Linked DNA regions of Homo sapiens. The protein of the gene in region 2 purifies or fractionates together with the protein of the main gene of each other region. This does not show direct contact. Each region holds a gene or a part of one and is shown on either strand. Other genes may lie near its edges.

Region 1 (3,500 bases), on a different chromosome or scaffold from region 2:
GTTTGAAACTGGGAGAGAAGAGAAGAATGCTTCTGAGCTTCATCTCAGCTGGAGAAATGGGGTAGAAAATGGGGCTCAGGCCCAAACAGCCTTTGGCGTGAGGGTCCTAGAAAGGAAGGGGAAGGTCCTCAGGCCCCCAGAAGTAATGGAAGAGTGTCTGATTCACAGCTCTGAGTTCAGACTCTGCTGGGGACTAGCCTGGAAGCATTCTGTACCCCAGCAGGGCTAGCCTAGAACCACACTGTGAAACCTGGCGTGCTTTTCCCTAAGTTACCTGGAGTATGGGAAGAAAACCCCATTTCCAGACACCAGGGAACAAGACATTCTCTGTCCCAGAGTAGAATGAATCAAATTGATTTAGTGCTGGGTTCCTGGGTGACATCGCTAATAACAAAGGAATAGTAACAATAATGATGAATATAATATGTTATGCTTGTACTGGGTTGTGCAAATGAGTTTACTGAATGAACTCTCATCCTTTACCTCAACTTATTCTCCAACAACCCTGTGTGGCAGGCCAGGAAGAGATTCTTACTTAGAACACAGGCTTCAGGGGGCCAGGACTTCTTTATTATTTTATTTTATTTTATTTTATTTTATTTTATTTTTTTGAGACGGAGTCTCGCTCTGTCACCCAAGCTGGAGTGCAGTGGTGTGATCTTGGCTCAATGCAACCTCCGCCTCCTGGGTTCAAGTGATTCTCCTGCCTCAGCCTACCGAGTAGCTGGGACAACCGGCGCACACCACCACACCCGGCTAATTTTTGTATTTTTAGTAGAGACGGGGTTTTACCATATTGGTCAGGCTGGTCTTGAACTCCTGACCTCAGGTGATCCACCTGCCTCGGCCTCCCAAAGTGCTGGAATTACAGGCCTGAGCCACCATGCCCGGCCAGGACGTCTTTAAATGTCAGACATAATTTTAAAAATATGCATATATACCCATTTATTCTGGGAGATAGTCCATGGTTTTTGATCTGTTCTCAAAGGACTCTGTGACTTAAAGTTAAGAACCACAGGCCGGGCGCGGTGGCTCACGCCTGTAATCCCAACACTCTGGGAGGCCGAGGCGGGCAACTCACGAAGACAGGAGATCGAGACCATCCTGGCTAACACGGTGAAACCCGGTCTCTACTAAAAATACAAAAAAATTAGCCGGGCGTGGTGGCGGGTGCCTGTAGTCCCAGCTACTCGGGAGGCTGAGGTGGGAGAATGGCGTGAACCCAGGAGGTGGAGCTTGCAGAGAGCCGAGATGGCGCCACTGCACTCCAGCCTGGGCGAGAGCGCGAGACTCTGTCTCAAATTAAAAAAAAAAAAAGAACCACAGGCCAGGTGCGGTGGCTCATGCCTGTAATCCCAGCACTTTGGGACGCCGAGGCGGGTGGATTATGAGGTCAGGAGTTCGAGACCAGCCTGACCAACATGGTGAAACCCCGACTCTACTAAAAATACAAAAATTAGCCGGGCGTGGTGGTGCCTGCCTGTAATTCCAGCTACTCAGGAGGCTGAGGCAGGAGAATCGCTTGAACCTGGGAGGCAGAGGTTGCAGTAAGCTGAGATCATGCCACTGCACTCCATCCTGGGCGACAGAGCAAGACTTTGTCTCAAAAAAAAAAAAAAAAAAAAAAAAGAGGAACCACAGTCCCTTGTGAGGGCAAGGGCTATGTCTCATTTGTGTTCTGGCACACAGCTGGGGTGAGTGAACGAGCCAAGCCCATTTTACAAGGAAGGCAGCCAAATTCACATTAGAATTTAATCAGAAATATCTGTAAAAACTCGAGAGAATCCATATATTTCCTAAAGATCTTAATTGAACTTTGGGTACTTAGAACACAGAGGCTGTTTGGCCAGGCGTGGTGGCTCATGCTTATAATCCCAGCACTTAGAGCTCCAAGGGGCTTACAGTCCTCTGAATCTAAGCCCAGGGCTTGTGTACTACAAGCTGCTGAGTCTGCTAAACTCCCCCCACCTTGGCAGCTGTGCAGCTGGGAGGCAGGAAAAGCCTTTCTTCCTCTGCTTGGAAGAAGAGAGCAGAAGCAGTGGTGATAGGATGCCTGGGGGGAACCTGGTGGCCATGCTGGGCTGATGTGCTCAGGGCTCCTGTGCCTTCTCCGCTATTCCTGGCACAGACAGTTGGCATCATGGCCACGGTAGGGGGCTGAGGCACTGCGGGGGCCCCTCAGGCTGAGAAATCGGCTGGAACAAACCAAATTATAATGCACAAACAACATCACCCTCAGCCTCCTGGCCTCAGAGCAGGAAAAGAGTGCCAGATGGTATCTAACAGCAGCTGTTGATCTCCATCCTGGTCTGAGCAGCACCACTGAGCCTCAGGCCAGTTTCTCTGGGAGCTGAAGGGCAGCCAGCACCAGCAGGAGGCCAGGCTCCCCTGACCCTGATCGTGGGCCCTAGCACGGCCTGCATCTCCGCCTGGGACACCCAGTTGGCCTGGAAATGCTCATCTATCGTTAGACTCACCTTCCCTGACTTCTCCCCACCCCTGGCTCCCAGGGCCCGCTGCTTTTGCCCAAAGCACTCAGCAATGAGACAGGGTTGTTTCTAGCTGGTGTCCCCCACTAGCCAGGAAGCACATGAAGCGCAAGGTCCCAAGACGGACCCATATACACCTGTCAGCTGGAGGAGGGTAAAGGGCAGGGACCTAGTGTTCTTCCTGAAAGTAGAAGGAACGGACAACAGGTCAAATTCGGCTGGTCACAAGGTAAGGAAGGAGGGAGATGACACTCTGCGGGAGCCCCTCCTCAGCAGAGAAGCAAGGCCTGGCCACGCATTCCTGGGTGATGTCAAGAAACGGCAAGATCGGTGGTGGCCATTCTGCTGATCCCTCTGCAATGCCAGCTGATGCTCTGGAAAGAAGGAACCAGCAAGCTATTCTCTCTGGACCCTCAAGAACCAAGCAGCCACCAGAGGGCAGCCTTTGGCAGAGGCTGAGCCCTTGGACGTTGGGCTTCTCCAATGGGTGACAGAGAGCATCACAGATCTAACGCCCTGTTGTACAGTGAGCCCATCTGCGGCTGGCTCCTCTGCCACTTAGGAGCCTCCGGACCTTGATCTGGCTCAGAAAAGGGAAAAGTAATGACAGAATCCACACCATGCATTTATTAAGTGCTCACTGTAACCAAGTTCGATGTGCTTGGTGCTGGAGAGACTGGAAAGGCGCTGTCAATGTAAGCTGGTGTGGTCATGACCCCGAGCCTCCAAGTAAACACTATTAATTACAGAGAAGCAGCCTGGTGTCGGCCAGGCGCCTATTTTGGAGTCACTTACTAGCTGTGTGCCCTTCAGCAGGTAACTTGACCTTTCTGAGCATCAGTTTTTCCATCTGTGGACTGGGCATAACAACCATCCTTCCTTTGTCACATAGTTTCAAGGACTAGATGAAATGAGTATAAAAGCCCCCAGTCCAGGGCCCTGTCTGAAACCTGGAGGCCATCCCAGCCTCCCTAGCAGCCGGCGCTCAAGTTACCTGCAGCTCGGCTGCCG
Region 2 (3,500 bases):
CACGGAGGAGTGGGTGCTCACCTCTCACTCGCGCCCTGTGTAGGTTCCACAAGCTGGAGAAGTGGCGGCGGCCGTTCTATCGCGTGCTGCAGGTGTACGAGAACGCGTCGGTGCTGCTGCCTGCCTTCTACAACACGCGCAACACCGACGTGTCCATCCGCGTCAAGTACGTGCTGGACGACTTCGAATCGCCGCAAGCTGTCTACTACTTCCATCCGCAGTACCTGGTCAACGTGTCGCGCTACTGGCTCAGCCTGGGGGTGCGCGCCAAGCGCATCAGCACCGGCCTCATTCTGGTCACTGCGGCGCTGGAGCTCTGTGAGGAGGTGCACCTCTTTGGCTTCTGGGCCTTCCCCATGAACCCCTCGGGCCTCTACATCACTCACCACTACTATGACAACGTCAAGCCGCGTCCCGGCTTCCACGCCATGCCCTCTGAGATCTTCAACTTCCTGCACTTGCACAGCCGAGGCATCCTCCGCGTGCACACGGGCACCTGCAGCTGCTGCTGATGGCTGCCAGCCAGGCTGCCCGGCAAGCGGCGCCCCCTCTCCTGCTGTCCCTCCTGGTGGAACTGGGAGCCCCGAACCGGGCAGCGTGGGGTCCTGGCGTTCAGGCTGTCTCTCCCTCCATTGTTCAGCTCTGTACTTGGATCCTGGGGTAGGGAGGCAGGGTTAGGAACCGGGGCAGAGTCAGCTCTGTGCTGAGCCTCCTGGCCTGGCCCCCACCGGTGCATCCGCCCAGTGCGTCCACCTGCCCTGGCTAGCATGCTGCTGGGCCACACCCCAAGATCAGGGGCCCTGGGGACGGCAAGTGAATAAAGCACATTTCCACCCAATTTTGTCATCCGAGAGAGAGCACAAACTGCAGGCCCTTGTTGCAGCTGAAGGAAGACCCTACAGAGAATGGAATTGAGAGTGGAGACAGGACACTTCACAGGACACTTGAGCACAGTCAAGATTTTATTCACACTTTTGGTTCCTGTGTTTTATATCGAAGACTTAGCTATGAATTGCTATCTAAATCTCAGAGCTTAGAAGCCAACCCAGTGACTAGACCTTCCAGTGAAGAAAGTGATCTCAAGAGGTCCAGGGACTTAACAGCCAAGCCACACCACCCGACAGGTTCTTCTGTGACACCGAGAGATCTAACCCAAGGCCTGGGTTATGTCTTAGTCGAGACATCATCATCTGAGAAGCACCACATCCTTTCAGACACATCCTCGGACACACATGCGGTCTTGGTGCCCCCAGGTTCAATCCTGCGTTAGCTCTTTTGATGAGAAGGAAATAAACCAAACCAGCCACTTGCACTATGGCTTCCAAGCCAATGTTATTGACTCAATAAGTGCTTAGCAATTGGCTTCCTCTTTTGTCTTCCTATTTTCAGCTCCATTTAAACCAGGAGTTATTTATAAAGACCTCTTCCTCTCATGTCTCTGAATCCTGCAGAATCCTGCTGTATCGTGTTCCTCAGTCGGAACCATAGGCTCTGGGCTGGAAAGCACTGACATGTCAGGTGGTGAGCTTAGCAGAGAGAAACGAGTTGTGGCCTCCGACACCAGCATCACTGAGGCTTCCGCTGTGAAGGCGGGACTTCTCACAGCAGACCCCAGGGCCTGGGCTTGGGGCAGTCAGCTGGGCTTAGGCAGAGAGGGGTTCACATATCATTTCACATCTGAAATTAATTCCCTTTGCTTCTCCCTGTGGTGTTTCCACCATAAATGGGATGGTGTCTAAGAGACACTGTTGGTGAACTAACTGCCTTAGAACTTAGCTTTGTGGAATCATAGGATGTTAGTGCTGGGAGGAGGACTTCAGCCTACCTGCCTGGCAACCTGTCTCCCTCCCTCCTTCCTTTCTCCCTGCCTCCTCCCCTTTCTCCTTCCCTCCCTTCCTCTTTTCTTCCTCCCCTTAAACATTTCTGGAAAGCCTATTCTGCTTTGGTCTGTGGTTGGACTTAGGAAGACATAAGGATAAACAAAGGCATTATCTGTGTCTTCTGGGGGTGCAGGGCCCAGAGATTATAGACCCAGTCCCACGTGCTGGGTGCTCTGGGAGGGTTAGGAGCTGTAAGAGTCTATCAGGGAGTGGGATCTGCTATCCAATCACCTCATTTGACAGGCCCCCCGGCTGAGCCAGTCAGGGACGTGGAGAGTGCAGGCTTTATCCCAGGCCTCCAGGCTCCTGATCCAGGGCTCCGTTCTTGGCCAAACTTTTGTGTCTTGGCTTGGGCTTCCTGTGGGGGGGTTGTTGTGGAACCTGTGCCCTGTGCACAACACTGTTCTCAGTGCTGACTCTCACCTGCATTCTGAGCTCTGGTCCTGGTTGGGAAAACCTCAGGTGGCTCTGAGTCTCAGTCTGCTGGTCAGGAATGTAGGGGAGTAGCCAAGGGGATGAAATGATCCCAAACACCTGCTAAACCAGGAAGAACTGCAAAGGACAGTGGATGGTTATTACTTGCTTGAGCTCTGCCTATTTCTCCCAGGGAGGGAATTTCTGGGAAAGATTCCAGTTACCTGAGATTTCTAGCCACTGCATGGTTAATTGAACCCAGTTCTTGAAACCATGGAATATAAAAACTAGAAGGTTCTTAAAGACCATTTTGTTCCACTTTAGGAAACAGGCCCAGAGCAAAGATGTGACTGGGTCAAGTCATGCCTGGGGCTCTACTGAGTGCCTGCTGTGGACAGAGCCCTCTACTGGAAGCCCTCTGGGTACTAGTTATGTTCCAGATGGGCAGTGTTTGGGGGAGGCTCCCTGGTGACACAGACATCAGGATTCCCACAGCTGAGGGTGTTGCAGGTTGGAATCTGCCCCAGCCAGGGCCCTCGTAGGAGCTGAGGATTGGAGCATCGGGATCCAGCCCACAGAGGAGTTGGGACACCTGGCTGCTGGCCATATTCCTGCCTGTGGGTCTTAGGGCCAGTCCTTCCTCTCCCTCAATGTCTCAGTTTCCTCATCTCTACAACTAGAAGCTTTGTAAAAATCTTCAGCGTCTGTACAATGTCCTTATTTTGGGGGGACATTCATGATGAATGGATCTAAACCATAATTAATATTTCTCATTATACTAGCTAGCATTTATCAAGCTACGTTAAGCACTTTCCCTATATTATCTCCTGTAATCATCATGAGACCCCTTTGGGTAAGGAGGCTCCCATTGTACAGATGAGGAGACAGAGGCTTAAAGCAATTCCAGGACTTGCCCTTGGTCAGGCACCCAATGGAGGGAACGGCACCCAATGGAGGGAACTGCACCCAGATCTGTAGAGCCCCAAAGTCTGTGCTCCAAACCTCTGTCTTAGCTTCCCAGACAGTGACACCAGAACATGAGGGATCCTGACCAAGATGCCCCTGCAGGATAGTACGGGGCCCTCCTCCAGGGACAAATGCTCTAGGAGGCTGTCATCGTCCGGGAAGCAGCCTGTGCTTATAGGTGCCTCTCCCTAACCCTGCCGCCTACAGCAGTAGCGACTTACCCACAGTGGCACTGGAGGG

What was found. The genes of interacting proteins can lie anywhere in the genome.
Region 1: the proteins of ST8SIA5 (region 2) and ECE1 purify together in Homo sapiens (affinity purification with mass spectrometry; one large-scale study listed by BioGRID and IntAct). This does not show direct contact.

What each region holds. Positions count from the first base shown.
Region 1 is NC_000001.11:21,252,464-21,255,963, forward strand, and holds part of ECE1 (endothelin-converting enzyme 1), read right to left. Parts: coding exon 3,484-3,500; intron 1-3,483. UniProt on the Homo sapiens protein: Converts big endothelin-1 to endothelin-1.
Region 2 is NC_000018.10:46,677,054-46,680,553, reverse strand, and holds part of ST8SIA5 (alpha-2,8-sialyltransferase 8E), read left to right. Parts: intron 1-43; coding exon 44-512; 3' UTR 513-3,500. UniProt on the Homo sapiens protein: Involved in the synthesis of gangliosides GD1c, GT1a, GQ1b, GP1c and GT3 from GD1a, GT1b, GM1b and GD3 respectively.